Linked DNA regions of Homo sapiens. The protein of the gene in region 2 interacts with the protein of the main gene of each other region in a pairwise test. Each region holds a gene or a part of one and is shown on either strand. Other genes may lie near its edges.

The links. The genes of interacting proteins can lie anywhere in the genome.
Region 1: the proteins of RNF216 (region 2) and UBE2L6 interact in binary tests that used the Homo sapiens proteins (3 or more experiments, as listed by UniProt).
Region 3: the proteins of RNF216 (region 2) and FLNB interact in a two-hybrid assay, tested with the Homo sapiens proteins (one study listed by BioGRID).
Region 4: the proteins of RNF216 (region 2) and UBASH3A interact in binary tests that used the Homo sapiens proteins (3 or more experiments, as listed by UniProt).

What each region holds. Positions count from the first base shown.
Region 1 is NC_000011.10:57,557,426-57,561,286, forward strand, and holds part of UBE2L6 (ubiquitin/ISG15-conjugating enzyme E2 L6), read right to left. Parts: intron 3,008-3,861; coding exon 2,912-3,007; intron 1-2,911. UniProt on the Homo sapiens protein: Catalyzes the covalent attachment of ubiquitin or ISG15 to other proteins. Functions in the E6/E6-AP-induced ubiquitination of p53/TP53. Promotes ubiquitination and subsequent proteasomal degradation of FLT3.
Region 2 is NC_000007.14:5,708,316-5,712,176, forward strand, and holds part of RNF216 (E3 ubiquitin-protein ligase RNF216), read right to left. Parts: intron 3,596-3,861; exon of another isoform or gene 3,525-3,595; coding exon 3,446-3,524; intron 1-3,445.
Region 3 is NC_000003.12:58,123,308-58,127,168, reverse strand, and holds part of FLNB (filamin-B), read right to left. Parts: coding exon 3,479-3,861; intron 2,838-3,478; coding exon 2,664-2,837; intron 1,589-2,663; coding exon 1,426-1,588; intron 568-1,425; coding exon 407-567; intron 1-406. UniProt on the Homo sapiens protein: Connects cell membrane constituents to the actin cytoskeleton. May promote orthogonal branching of actin filaments and links actin filaments to membrane glycoproteins. Anchors various transmembrane proteins to the actin cytoskeleton.
Region 4 is NC_000021.9:42,417,288-42,421,148, forward strand, and holds part of UBASH3A (ubiquitin-associated and SH3 domain-containing protein A), read left to right. Parts: intron 1-1,113; coding exon 1,114-1,322; intron 1,323-3,861. UniProt on the Homo sapiens protein: Interferes with CBL-mediated down-regulation and degradation of receptor-type tyrosine kinases. Promotes accumulation of activated target receptors, such as T-cell receptors, EGFR and PDGFRB, on the cell surface.

The sequences.
Region 1 (3,861 bases), on a different chromosome or scaffold from region 2:
ACTTTGCTGCCCAGGCTGGAGTGCAATGGCGTGATCTCGGCTCACCGCAACCTCTGCCTCCTAGGTTCAAGCGATTCTCCTGCCTCAGCCTCCCAACTAGTTGGGATTATAGGCATGCACCACCACACCCAGCTAATTTTGTATTTTTGGTAGAGACAGGGTTTCTCCATGTTGGTCAGGCTGGTCTTGAACTTCTGACCTCAGGTGATCCGCCCTCCTCGGCCTCCCAAAGACATGGGATTATAGACGTGAGCCACCATGCCCAGCGCCATGCTTCTTGTACAGCCTGCAGAAGCTTGAGCCAAATTAACCTCTTTTCTTTATATATTACTCAGCCTCGGGTATTCCTTTACAGCAACACTAATGGACTAAGACAGGGGTATCAGTGTGTCCTGCCTGAAGGGGCTTCTTTCTGGGCTTCGTAGGACTTAACAGAGGAAGGAGGTAGCAGAGTCATGGAGCTGAGAGCTCCGGGGACCTGTCCCAGCTCTGCCTCGGGCTTGCTGTATGACTGAGCTTTCTCTGAGGATCAGTTTCCTCGTCTGTAAAATGGAGAAGCTGGACCAGAGGATTCCATGCTGTATCTTACAGTCAGTTGAGAAAGTCCCACTACCTTCTAAGTTCTAGGTTAAATAAAGGATTTTGCTACTTTATTTTGTTTTGTTTTTTTGAGACAGAGTTTTGCTCTTGTCATCCAGGCTGGAGTGCGATGGCCCAATCTCAGCTCACTACAACCTCCAACTCCCGGGTTCAAGTGATTCTCGTGCCTCAGCCTCCTGAGTAGCTGGGATTATAGGTGCCCACAACCATGCCCAGCTAATTTTTGTATTTTTACTAGAGACAGGGTTTCACCATGTTGGCCAGGCTGGTCTCAAACTTCTGACCTCCAGTGATCCACCCACCTCAGCCTCTCAAAGTGCTGGGATTACAGGTGTAAGCCACCGTGCCCGGCCTGCTACTTTTTAAAAAATTTTGAAAACTATTCATTTTTCATGGAGTGGTTAAAAGAGAAGACCCTGGAGTCCGCTGAATTCCACTCCTGCCACCTTATTCTGAGTGACCCCAGACCAGTTACTTAACCTCCTTGGTTTCCATCTCTGCAATTTTAAGAGGAAGACAACCTTCCTCACTGGATGGTTGAGAGGATTCAATATGACCTCATATGTCGTGTGCTTAAAACAGCACTTGGTCCACAGGAAACTCTCAAGGAATGAGAATTTTACTATTAGCTTCGAAAGACTCATCGAGCTGAATCCTTCCATGACCAAGATGTGACAAGTGGGGCCACTTTGGTGAACACATAAACTGAGACTGAGCCTTTGAGGAGGAATTTGTGTGCTATTCCAAAAGACCTTTCCTGGTTCTCCTTCCTCTGCCAGTCAACCATCCCCTCCTTTATGGCCTCACCAGGCACCTTCAGGCCCCCTTAGCTGATGACTTACATCAAGCTTTGGTCCTCCAGCTCTGGGATTCCTCCCAAGTATCATGTTTCTTCAGGACTCCTATATGGCTGGAAGGTCTGTGGCCAGTTCCTGGGGCGCACTTAACCACCTTGGTCTTGCCAACTATTGAGGTCCTCTGATTTCATAGTACTCTGCCAAACGAGACCTTTCCTAGGTTTTCCTATCACCCCTGCTTTCATCATCTCAAAGTTGGTCTCCTTGGAGATATAATCAGTCCCTGGAGCTCCTTTGAGCATCTTCTCCCGGCACCTGAGGCCTAGAACAGGTGTCCTCACTCTAAGCCAGGTAAGTGGATCGTTTCAACACAGTAACCCAAGGGACTTGACAGAGGTTCCCATGTTGACCTGACTCAGGCCTTTCTCTACTTTTCTGGACTATAGGTCAGTTTAAAGAGAAGACGACACAACCTAGGCCACTGCATTGTCAATAAAAAGTAAATCCTGCCGGGTGTGGTGGCTCCACCTGTAATCCCAGCACTTTAGGAGGCCGAGGTGGGCAGATCACTTGAGGCCAGGAGTTTGAGACCAGCCTGGCCAACATAGCAAAATCCTGTCTCCACTAAAAACACAAAAATTAGCCAGGCATAGTGGCACGTGCCTGTAGTCACAGCTACTCAGGAGGCTGAGGCAGGAGAATCGCTTGAACCCCAGAGTGGAGGTTGCAGGAAACGAACATCGCATCACTGCACTCCAGCCTGGGTGACACAGTAAGACTCTGTCTCAAAAAAAAAAACAAGTCCAAATCCTAAATGATAAGATGAATTGTTCCTTTGATATTCCAAAGAGCTTTGACTAACAAAAAGTTCAATGTCTTAAATTTTATTTCCAAGTAATGAAAAGTGTAGATTAATTTCTCAAAGTATCTTTAGTCACTAATAATCGGATGAAAAAAAGAGAGATCTTGCACTCTGAAAACTATTTTGGAATACTGCTTTCAGAGAGACTTTATCAAGAAAATACCAAATAATAAACAGAGAAAAATAAGAACAGTAGAAATGAGCTATTTGTGTTTTCATATGTAACAATTTTCTGAAATAAGACTACAGAAAAACAAAATACAATTTAGGTTTGCGGGAGCAAATTCTCCCAACTGTGAGAGCCTGGAAGTTTATCCCTACCCCTTGACAAAGGTCCAAGAAATCTTTATTTCTTCTTCTTTTTGATGCTGTTTGTCTCCTGAAGTTCTGTGGTGGGCTTGGTGGCTACCGGTTTAAGGAAGGGGTCTCCTACTAAGTCAAAAGTCCTTTGGCATCTTTATCAGAAGGTGAACCTCAGAAGTATCTGGATCTCAGAAGCAATCAATTCAGAGAGAAGCCCCCTCCAGCAATGATAACCTCCAGTAAAAGGATCTCAAGCAGGGAAAATTCTTGCCTAGTCCTAACCCTCCCTGCCCATGTCCCTGGCCTAATTTGGCCCCAATCCAAAGCCATGGTCCCCATGGATACTCACGGGTAGGAGGAGAGCGTGCCACACCAGGACATTGGCATCATCGCTGGACAGGTTCCGCAGGTATGGGGGAGGCTTCTTCTGAAGATCCTCCAGCTCCTGCAGGGGACACAAGTGAGTGGGCAGTTGGCCTAGTCCTCCTTATTTCAGCCCCCTCCCCCTGCCCCAGCAGCAAGCTGCCCCAAGTTCAAAACTGGCCATCTTAGGGGCAGAAGCCGGTAAAGTCAGAGCCTACATTTACTGAGCACTTAGTATGTATCAGGCATGGTGCTGGTGCTTTTTCTTTTTTCTTTTTTTTTTTTTTTGAGACAGAGTCTCGCTCTGTTGCCCAGGCTGGAATGCAGTGGCGCAATCTCGGCTCCCTGCAAGCTCCGCCTCCTGGGTTCACGCCATTCTCCTGCCTCAGCCTCCCGAGTAGCTGGGACTACAGACGCCCGCCACCACGCCCCGCTAATTTTTTGTATTTTTAGTAGAGACGGGGTTTCACCGTGTTATCCAGGATGGTCTTGATCTCCTGACCTCGTGATCCGCCCGCCTCAGCCTCCCAAAGTGCTGGGATTACAGACGTGAGCTACCGCGCCCAGCCGGTGCTGGTGCTTTAAGTGAATTTTCTGACTGTGGCCTCACCACAACTCTGGTACACCTAGGTACTAGGTGCAGGGAAAAATAGATCACTTCTCCCAGATATTAAAACTTGGGAGTAAGTGCTCTTAGGAGGCTTTTCTCCTGAAAGCAGGGTACTTAACCTCTGCTCTCTAGCCTTCTTCCTAGAAAGTCACTAGGTTCTAATTCCCTTCCTCTCTTCCTTTCTTCCTTCCGTAAGCATCGACTGAGCATCTGCAGCAAAGACATGACCCCACCGCTTCAAACTCTGCCAGATCAGGGCTGGAGAAGGGAAATGACTCCGGAAGACCATAGCAGAGAAGAACTCTACACACCAAGTGGGGAAACAA
Region 2 (3,861 bases):
TTGAAAGTGAGGTATTGCAATCTCCTACTATTTTTGTGTTATTTTTCCCTTCGGCTGTCAATATTTGCTTCACATATTTGGGTGCACTGATGTCGGGTGCATATACAGATGGTCTCCAACTTACAATGGTTTTACACTTTTTGACTTTACTGTGGTGTGAAAGTGATACACATTCAGTAGAAACTGTAATTCAAGTACCCATACAATCATTCTCTTTTTCACTTTCAGTACAGTACTCAATAAATTACATGAGATACTCATACTTTATTCTAAAATAGGCTTCCTGCAAGAAGATTTTGCTAAATCGTAGGCTAATATAAGTGCTCAGGCTTTTGTTTTCCTTTTTTCAGGAGCTTGCAAGCTCTTGCTTCTTCTGGTGCCTGTCTGAGGTATCACAGGCCCTCTGGAGCTGCTGTAAGCTGCCCAGCTCTTTTTTGGCCTCAGCAGCTCCAAGGCATCTAGAGTAGGTTGGGTTCTGCCAGCAGTGAGTTGGGTGAGACAGAAGCCAGTCCCTCAGGCAGCCCCTTGAGAAGCCCAAATGCTGAACACATGCTCTACTCTTCCCCTGGACCCAAAAAGCAGCCTTCGAGGTGCACTGGACTCTGCCTACTGTACCGTGGGTCCTCTGGCGCAGTACAAACCACCCAGCTTTCTCTTGTTCTCAGCAGCCCCCAGGGACCTAGACCATGCCAGGTCCCATCAGTGCTTCATCGAGTGAGACAGGAACGAGAGTCTTGGGCAGACTCCAGAAAACCTAGAATGCTGGACTCATGCTCCAACTCCTTCCCTCCCGAGAAGAGCAGGGAGAGGGCAATGAGGAGTCAGTACGTGCTAGTTTCACCATCCCATTTGTCCTCAGAGGTCCCCAACCTGGTGCCCTTTCCTGTGAGACAAGACAGAAACCAGTCCCTTGAGCAGCCTCCTGAAAGGTCTGAATATTAGATATATGTTCCAGTCTTCTTTTTCCTCCCCAGAAAGATGCCAGGAGTTGGGAGCTTCCTCCCAATCACATGGTGCTGTGCCAGGGGGAGGAACTCTGGAGAGCCAGCGTCACAAATTCCCCAGCCTTTGATGCAACTGGTTTCTGGATTTCTCACAGAGAGAAATGGTCCTTCCGTTGTTGTTGAACTGTTCTCTCTATGGGAAAAAGAGGGTCTGGAGCTTTCTCTTCTGTCATCTTGACACTACCCCACACCACATGCCTTTACGGCTTTTTCTGCAAGTGATCTAACTACTCACATGTTTCACTGACCACAAGAAGCTACATGGCTACCTTCAAGTTCAGCAGGCCATGTATATTCCTCCCATAGACAAACAAAAACATATGTGGTGTTCCTATTTGGGATCTTAAGAGCCCCTGGGAAGCTCCCACCAACATGCCAAGTTGATACTCACTAGATGCTGTTCCAGACTCATGTGTGCCCTCAGGCTTTTATTTTTTAAATTTTTTTCTTTTAAAGACAGAGTCTTAGTCTGTTGTCCAGGCTAGAGTGCAGTGGCGCAATCATGGCTCAGTGCAGCCTCAATCTCCTGGGCTCAACTGATTGTCCTGCCTCAGTCTCTTAAGTAGCTAGGACTATGGGCACACACCACCATGCCTAGCTGAGTTTTAAAATTTTTTTTGTAGAGATAGGGTCTATGTTGCTCAGGCTGGTCTCGGACTCCTAGTCTCAAGAGATCCTCCTGCCTCAGCCTCTCAAAGTGCTGGGATTACAGGCATGAGCCACTGGGCAACCAATGCAGCTGCTTTTAAATGTCTTCAGGCTGGGGGTGGTGGCTTACACCTGTAATACCAGCACTTTGGAAGGCTGAGGTGGGCGGATCACTGGAGGCCAGGAGTTCAGGACCAGCCTGGCCAACATGGTGAAACCTCATCTCTACTAAAAATATAAAAATCAGTCAGGCGTGGTGGCGCATACCTGTGATCCCAGCTACTTGGGAGGCTGAGGCAGGAGAACTGCTTGAAGCCAGGAGGCGGAGGTTGCAGTGAGCTGAGATCGTGCCACTGCACTCCAGCCTGGGCAACAGAGTGAGACCCTGCCTCAAAACTTAAAAACAAAAACAAAAACAAAAAACGTCCTCAGAGAATAATGGTCTCTCCTCTTCTTTGGCCTTCCCAATTGTACATAAGCACTTTCACTGGCAGACCTTCTTTGAAACCTTACCAGGAAATGTAGTTCCCAGCTCCTTCTAAGCAACTCATGAAGACCCAAGAGGCTGTGCAGTGCTGTACATTTCTCACCTGGACTACTCAATAGGCAAGTAGACTTTCCTTATATTTTATCTCTCCCCACCTCAGGACAGTGTGCTGCATGGGCCTGCCCCTACTCAGCTTATGAGCCTCCTTCACACTCCTAGCACCAGTAAGCGTCCACATTGCTGCCACTCCCGGGGCCTAGAACATTTCTCCATCTCCACTCCACTCCCACCCTTTCCATCCTTTGGCTACTTCCTCCTTATCTGCTGCATCTTAGCGTAGGCATCACCTCCCCAGGCAGTCCAACACCTGACCCACTGGAAGCACACAAGGGACACGCTAGCACTCTGCTTTCTTAAGAGCTGCAAGATGCCAGCGACTGTTGTGACAATTGTTATAGCAACAGCCTGGGGTGCGAACATATAAAATGGCCAGAAATATTAATGCTGAAAACAAAAGAAATAAAGTTTTGATCCATTAGTTTAGTTTATTCTTCCTTTTCTAATCTCTACCTTAATTTCTTTACTCTCCCCAAGGCAAAGATATTGCAGTGTTCAACTCTAATCATGCAATTTTAGAAAAATGGCTTAGAGCGTATTTGTCTAGGTGGATGCTAATATTCACTAAAAACTCTAAGTGGCTTCTAAATAGCTGAAAGATTTTAAGACATTCTTAGTTCACAGGGCGCCAAGTTAAAGGGAACAAAGATCTGCAACAGTAATGCACCTAGACAGCTCTGCTCCCACGTAATATAGTCAGTTCTCATGAGGAGAAACAGTCAAATAAATAACCTACCAGATGTGATGGAGATGCCACTAAGATGCCCAGTTCCTCAATCAAAGAAGCGTCGTTTGGACTTTGAAAATGGCAAAAGGTGTGTGTGTGGGGAGGGAGGGGTAGCAGGGGCTATTTGAGCACAGGTGGTGAAGAGAGCAAGCAAGAAAAATGTTGACACAGTGGAAGAAAAACTAAACACTTCCCACTTTACATTATAGTATCTGTCCTAAAGAAGATGATATAAAATAGGAATCCAGAGCTTTGTAACTGGAGTGGCAAGAGTGGCTGCCATCTCAGTAACCATGTCAACCGTTACTCACAAAGTACTCGTCCTCATTTGCTTATGAAAAGGAAAGCACTCAAATCCTTCTTATACATCAGCAGTCAGGTAAACAGCAGATATTTGGGCCATGAGGGCAGCCCATAATACCATAATTCAATATACATCTAGAAAAAAATGTGCCTCCCTACCTTTCGGCAGTGAGGATTAGGACAGCTGAACCTCTTCACATCACTGTCCAACAGAGCCGGAAAGCTACAGGACGGGCACCTAGAGTCAGAACAGCAGAACTGACATTACTTCAAACATTAAAGCCTGATCTGGTTCCAGCTCCATGTGGCTGTTCATATGAAGATGGAGTTTTGAGCTGGACATTCACATCCCCTTTATACTCCTTAGTTTTCCTTAAAAACACAGATTGAACCTCTTCTTTGTGCTGGCTCTTATCAGGAAACATAAGCACCACATGAGGTCCTGACTGAATATAAACCACTCAATAAACACGTCCCAACCTTAATGAGAACTCCTTGCATATACCGATTTCCCTCCAGCCCAGGGCACCATGATTGTATCTACGGGCCAGAAGATTTGGGGGTGCCAAGATATG
Region 3 (3,861 bases), on a different chromosome or scaffold from region 2:
GTATTTCTTGTAAAGATGGGGATTCCCCATGTTGCCTGGGCTGGTCTCAAACTCCTGACCTGAAGCAATCTGCATGCCTTGGCCTCCCAAAGTTTGGGGATTACAGGTGTGAGCCACTGTGATTTTCAACTTTGTAAAGAACCAGCTTTCCCCTGAATCAAGAACTAGGTCCTCCAACACACGCACAACTGTTTCCAGTCAAAATTCTAAGCCGATGCTTTTTGCCATGTTACCGGTTCTACTGGGAGTTGAGATAATCTTGGAGATGTAGCCCTAAGAAAAACTCTCCTTTTGCAGCTATTACAAATATCAGATTGTTTTCCCCACTCAGAGAGATAACCAAAATCAAACCCATTTTCCTGCAAAATCAATTATTCTCTGGGGTCCTCTCTGAGGAATAGCTCACCGGGGATGTGGGCTCCTCCATATGTGATATTAACATCGTAATCCCCCGGTGCGAAAGGAATGTACTCAGCACTGCAGCTGCCATCCTTGTTGTCTCTGCAATTTATCTTCGACTCTGATGGTCCCTCAACAGTTATGCCAAGCCCACCAATTCCTGCGCCTCTGGAAAGAGTGGAAAAGAAAGTGAAATGTGCACCATTTATTTATGCTGGTCTGCTTATTGCCAAAATTCATGCAAATTCCCTTTATAAACTATTCCACGTAGCCACCCCAACTCAATTACTACACCTCTCACATAGGGAATTTCACATTAGTATAATGTAAGTAAAGACACTCTGACCCCTCATTTTCAATGCTTATGCTTCATTTATTTTTCTTTTTCCTGAGACAGAGTCTCACTCCATTGCCCAGGCTGGAGTGCAGTGGCGCGGTCTCGGCTCACTGCAACCTATGTCTCTTGGGTTCAAGCAATTCACATGCCTCAGCCTCCCAAGTAGTAGCTGGGATTACAGGCGTGTACTACCAAGCCCAGCTAATTTTTATATTTCTTGTAGGGATGGGGTTTTGCCATGTTGGCCAGGCTGGTCTCAAACTCCTGGCCTCAAGCAATTGTCCCGTCTCGGCCACCTGAAGTGCTGAGATTACAGGTGTGAGCCGCCACACCCAGCCTATTTTTCTTATCTAATTGCACTGGCTAGGACTGCAAGTACAACGCAGGCATATGCCTTGCAACCAACTTTAATAAAAATACTTACAAGGTTGGCTACAAATTTTTACATTATCAAGTTATAGAGCTTGATTGACTCCTGGTTTGCTAAATAGTTTCATGACCATTATCAAGTGCTTTGGTATGTTTTTTAGGTATGCTTGGTCTTTCTATGTAACATAAGTCTCTACAGAAGGAAATACATGTTATAAAAATAAAAATTCATCTTATCAAAAGTTAGGAAACCATGACACATAGGTAGAATCTAGCCACAAAAGTGAGACTCAAGACACCAAATGTAGGGCCTTGCCTACCTGGTAACCACGGTGAAGACATTGGGCTTGTTGGTAAAGGCCTCTTTCAATCCAGGTCCTTGGGCTTGCACCCTAGATGGCTGGCAGCCTTCAGTGACAGCCACCTTGAAGGGACTGTTTGGGATAGGCACGTCATCATATGTCACCTCCACTACATGGAGACCTGCTCAAAACAACAAACAGAAACGCATATTTGCATACAAATCCCCTATTTGTGAAAAATGATTCTCTACTTCAGAGTTTCATCTAGCATCGAAGTCTGCATGCTATACTATGTTATTTGGAAAAGGGGGTTAAAAACACAGTAATGTGGCTGGGGGCAGTGGCTTACACCTATAATCCCAGCACTTTGGGAGGCCGAGGTGGGTAGATCACTTGAGTCCAGGAGTTCAAGACCAGCCTGGGCAACATGGCGAGACCCCATCTCTACAAAAAATACAAAAATTAGCTGAGTGTGGTGGTGCACACCTGCAGTTCCAGCTACTCAGGGGGCTGAGGCAGGAGGATCATTTGAGCCCAGGAGGTTGAGCCTGCAGTGAGCCGTGATCACACCACTGCACTCCAGCCTGGGCAACAGAGTGACATCCTGTTTCAAAACAAAACAAAACAATCCCACAGTAATGTAGGTATGATCTGACTTTTAAATAATACAAACCGTCTATCTGCAGTCACATAAGCCACTCCACCCCAACCAAGCAAATATTCAAGTCAGTCATCCTAAACAGACTACTCTCATTCGGGAAAACACCATCCAGCCATTAACCAAAAGAAAAAGCGAAACCCGTGAAACAGAAGAAACAGGCATCCACAAGAAGACTGAAAATATCTATATCAGAATATCGCAGGCTTCCGATCTCCAGGTAGTGGAGATATACATGGCACTTTTTTTTCTTTATGGTTTTCTATTTATTGAAATTTTTTATAATTCCTAATACTCAAGAAGAAAGAAATTCATACGCAAAGAAAAATGGCACAAATGAGCAACATCATGACATTACCCCATAACTTGCTGAGGTGAGACTGAGGCTAAACCCAGCCCACCTATTACACAAGGCCAGCAAGCCAGGCACTGAGTGGGCAGGTGACTGCAGCGGACGCTGACTTCCACTCTGTCACTCTGCACGTGGCCCTGCTGAGACAGGCCTAGCACATGGGGCAGGCATCAGTACCAGCCACCAGGAGGCAATGACCAAGGGCAGCTCTGAACGAGGGTCCAGTCCGAGGACAGGGCGGCTCACCTTTCTCAAAGGGTGTGTATTCCACCTGGTAGGTCCCATCCGCATTGTCTGTGACAAAGCACTCGGTGGAGGCCCCTGAGGGGTTGGCAATGTGGGCCTTGATGTGGTCACCCCCAACCTGGGTCAGCGGCCGAGAGTCAACTGTAAAGTCGGTGGTAGCTTCCCGGAACACATCTGCAGAGCAAGCACATAGCTAACACTGCCACCAGTACCCCAGACCCAAAAGCAAACCCCAGAACCAAGGTTCTTGGCACTTCAGGACACATGAAGTCCAATTTCAGTAACTGGAAAACTGGTTTTTCTAACTCTCAAATCAAGAATATTAACCCCCTCCATCCCAAAGAAGGCCTTTCTAGAGTAGCCACGGCTAAGTGACAACACGACTGCTCACACCGGGCTCGAGGACAGGTTAAAGGTTGAAGACTAACCTGCTGTGTGGCATGCAGGTGTTAGACAACACTACATTTTAAACTTTTTTCCAATTAAATGCCAACATGTTGTATGTTGAGTTTCCAGAGAAAAATCAAGATTTCTGCCTTTGCCAAAAAACTAGAGATTCTGCTGACAATGCTAGGTCCTGTTCCCCATGGAGAAACAGAAAACAGGGGTTGAGTAGCACGGTCCCCAGAAATGCAATGTGCTTAACCTTCACCAGGGCCCCCCAACTACTCCCCGAGGCAGAGGGAACAGGTGAGCACCGCCTTATATGTCACCTGGCTCCTGCAGGTGGCTGAGTTTGCAGCTCCAAGTTTCAGGTAGCCCTTAAGTCCCAGCTTGTCTTTTTTTTTTTTTTTTTTTTTTTAAATGAAACCCACCTTTCCCTTCTATTCCTGGTCCAAAGACTTTGATCCTGCTGGTGTCCACGGCGGGCTCCACCTTGACCCGGGCGGGGAAGTGTGGCACGAGTTCGCCACCATACTTCATGGTCAACGTGTACATGCCGGCCGTCAGGGGCACGTAGGTCACCGCGTAGGTGCCATCTTTGTTGTTCTGAATACTGACTTCGGCTTTTGTTCCCGAGTCCGAGACAGCTTCCAGGCCCAGGGCCCCCGGTCCCGCTTCCGAGCAGTCGACGCTAAGGAGGCCAGCTTCACCCACCTTCCCGTGCTCGAGACCTGGCCCCGATGCCACGACTTTAGAGGGGTCAAAGGGCATTTCAATGTCAGCTTTGAAGGGAGACCCAGGTATGTGGACTTCT
Region 4 (3,861 bases), on a different chromosome or scaffold from region 2:
ATGGCACGAACCTGTAATCCCAGCTACTCGGGAGGCTGAGGCAGAAGAATCACTTGAACCTGGGAGGTGGAGGTTGCAGTGAGCAGAGATCGTACCGTTGCACTCCAGCCTGGGCAACAGAGCGAGACTGGCAAAAAAAAAAAAAAAAAAAAAAAAGACAGAAAGGAAAGGACTATTGTAAAGATCTATGAATACATGTTTTGCTTATTAATTCTTTTTTATTTATTTATTTTTTAAATGTAGGGGCCATGCTAATCTTCTCTGCAGCATTCCAATTTTAGTTATATGTGCTGCCAAAGTGAGCACAATTCACTTTAAAGAATGATTTGAGTGAAACCTCATTCTGGGACTTCCTGCCCATGAATCGATGGGTTTAGAAACGAAGTGTGTGATGCTCCTTTCAGACCCAGAGAGCACGTGTGAATGAATCCACCATGTTCTGTATCGTATGAGGTGTCAATAACCTCACACCGAGGAAGGCGGATGTGAAAGTCTGCTTATGCCTTCAGATCTTTTGTAGACAAAAAAGTACCTAGATGGATGGATGATGGATAGATCCCAAAATGTATCTCTTTTTTTTTTCTTTTTTTCTTTTTTTTTTTTTTTTTTTTTTGAGAGGGAGTCTCACCCTGTCACCCAGGGTAGAATGCAGTGGAGTGATCTGCGCCCACTTCAACCTTCGCCTCCCAGGTTCAAGTGATTCTCCTGCCTCAAGCTTCCCAAGTAGCTGGGACTACAGGCACCCGCCACCATGTCCAGCTAATTTTTGTATTTTCAGTAGAGACGGGGTTTCACCATATTGGCCAGGCTGGTCTCAAACTCCTGACCTTGTGATCCACCCACCTCGGCCTTCCAAAGTGCTGGGATTACAGGCGTGAGCCACCGCGCCTGGCCCCAAAATGTATTTCTAAATCTATCCAAAGAATTCTATGCTGCGTTTCATTACATTCTGTGCTATATATTGCCAGACAAAGCTTTGGATGGAGTCTTGGAGACACAGAACACATTGGAGGGGCAGAAAGCAGGAGGTGGCAGGTGATAGGCCTCCTATTGCTGCCATTTTCCAATGTAAATCTTTGCTCGAGACGTGAAACCCCTTTGCCTCTTTTCTAGACCCTGAGAGCCCTATTCCAGTACAAACCCCAGAACGTGGATGAGCTGACGCTAAGTCCTGGTGACTACATCTTTGTGGACCCCACGCAGCAGGACGAAGCCAGCGAGGGCTGGGTGATTGGGATCTCACAGCGGACGGGCTGCCGGGGCTTCCTGCCGGAAAACTACACGGATCGAGCCAGTGAGTCTGACACGTGGGTGAAGCACAGGTGAGTGCTGCCTCTGGCTGCAGCCCCGTCATCTCTCTCTGAGTTACTGTGTGAGAGTGCCCACCTGCCAACAGTGTGCTTCTAGACCATTCCATTATTGGTAAAATTGCATTCTGTATGCTGACAAAATTATTCCTGCAGGTATATAGTAAACATCTTGGTTCGTCCCTGGTTTTCTGATGATAACATTCAAAAAAGAATGAATTACTCTGCATTAGAGTAATTTGAGATGGTAATCCCCAAATTACTGCAAAATACTACTTCTTTATCACACACATAATAAATTATACTCAGAGGTCCTGAGCTTGGGTTTATTTATTCTTCTGCTCCGTGTATGAAATGTAAAGTCCTAGGTCGTATTATTAGTTTTCTATGACTGTATAATAAATTACCACTAAAACAAAGTGCAATTATTATCTTATGGTATTTATGGGTTGAGAGTCAGAGTCCAGCTTCACTGGGTCCTCAGCTCGGGGTCTCAAGGCTGTAATCAAGGTGCCTGCCAGGGCTGGGCTCCCCACTGAGGCTTCACACCCTCGCCTGAGCATACACAGTTGTTGGTGGGAGTGATTTCCTTGAAGCTGTAGGGCTCCTGGTGAGTTGCTTCTTCATCAGCTGAAGAATCTCTTAATTTTAGCACCTTTTAGCATCATCTGGTGAGGCTAAGGATTTTCAGAATCATCAGATACTGGTTCTTTTTTGTTCGATGTTCTTCCCTCAATTTATCTCTTTCCTCTCCCGCTTCACTATAAATAACATGAAGAAACCAGGTGATACACTTAACACTTTGTTTGGAAATAGCCTTAGCTATGTGACCAACATCATCGCTTACAAGTCCTGCTCTCCATGGACAATTTCATTAAACTCTCTGGCACACATGGGAAGGATCCTCCTTGCTCCGATTTCCTGGAACACCTGTCACATTCCTTTCTGAGTTCTCCCCGGAGGATTCACCTTTAGCATCCCTATTTCCTCTAGCAGTCTGTTCATGGTGATTTGGGCTTTCTCTGCTGTGCTACTCAAAAGTCTCTTAGCCTCTACTCGCTGCCAAGTCCCAAAGTTGTTTCCACATTTTAAGTTCAGAAGGTTTCCAACTTACAATGGTTTGGCTTAGGATTTCATAATGTTACGAAAGTGATATGGGTTCAATAGAAACTGTACTTCAAGTGCCCATACAATCATTCTGTGCTACATTTTCAGTACAACATTCAACGAATTACATGAGATACTCAACACTTGATTATAAAATCGGCTTTGTGTTAGATTATTCCGCCCTATCATAGGCTACTGTAAGTGTTCTGAGCGTGTTTAAGGTAAGCTAGGCCAAGCTGTGATGTTCAGTAGGTTAGGTGCATTAAATGCATTTTCAATTTATGATGGGTTTGTTGGAACATAACCCCATCTGAAGTTGAAGAACATCCACTGTTTGTTAGAGTAGCACCCCATTCCTGATACCAAATTTAGTAAAAGTTTAACCAGAGATGCAGAACCAGTCACTTTCATACAATATATAATACATATAAGTATATGTACAGTTGTCCCTTGCTATCTGCAAGGGATTGGTTCCCGGACCCCCACAGATACCCAAATCCTCATGTTCTCGAGTCCCCGATATAAAATGCTGTAGTATTTACATGCAACTTATGCACATCACCCTGTATCCTTTAAATCATCTCTAGATTACTTGTGATATGTAATACAGTATAAATACTATGCAAATAGTTGTTATACGGTATTGTTTTTTATTTGTATTTTTTAAATTGTATTGCTATTTTTTAATTGATTAATCTTTTGAATATTTTTGGCCTGCAGTTGGTTGAATCCACAAATGCAGAACCTCCAGATACAAAGGGCTGACTATACATACATAGTATTTTATATTATATACACATGTATCACACACATATATATATGGAAAGGTATATATGTATACACACATCTATATTGATTTACTACAATGAATTGCCTTATGGAATTACTGGGGCTAGCTAAGCAAGGGCAGACAGGCAGGAAGGGAGGAGCCTACTTAGGCTGAAAACCCATGGGCAAGCTGAAGCTTGTTGTCCACATGTGGCAGTTGGAAGGACCACCCGGGTGATGGGAGAGCAGTCACAGACACAGCTGCTATTGAAGTCTCTGAGTGTGAGGAAAGCCTAAGTTTTTAAAAAAAAATGCCTTCCAACTGCATAAGTCAGACCTGCTCAGAATAACCTTGCTTTTGATTAATTTAAGCTCAACTGATTAGGGGTTCTAGTCACATTTGTAAAATCTCCTTCCAGCAGCACCTAGACTAGCATTTGATGGGATAGCTAGGAAGGCTGTGTGTGATGCTTAGGATGGCTACTGCCTCCCTTCCATCCTCCAGCTCTCATGAGAATGCCTCTTGTAGCCCACCCTGATCAGACATGTGCTAAAAAGGAAGTCTAGGAACTGTCGTTCAGTCTGGCCAAGTTGCCACACCATAAAGCCATTGCAAAGTGTTAAGGTGGCTCTTGTGAGCTTTTTCACTCTCTTCTCCCAGGTTCCAGTTAGGAGAGTG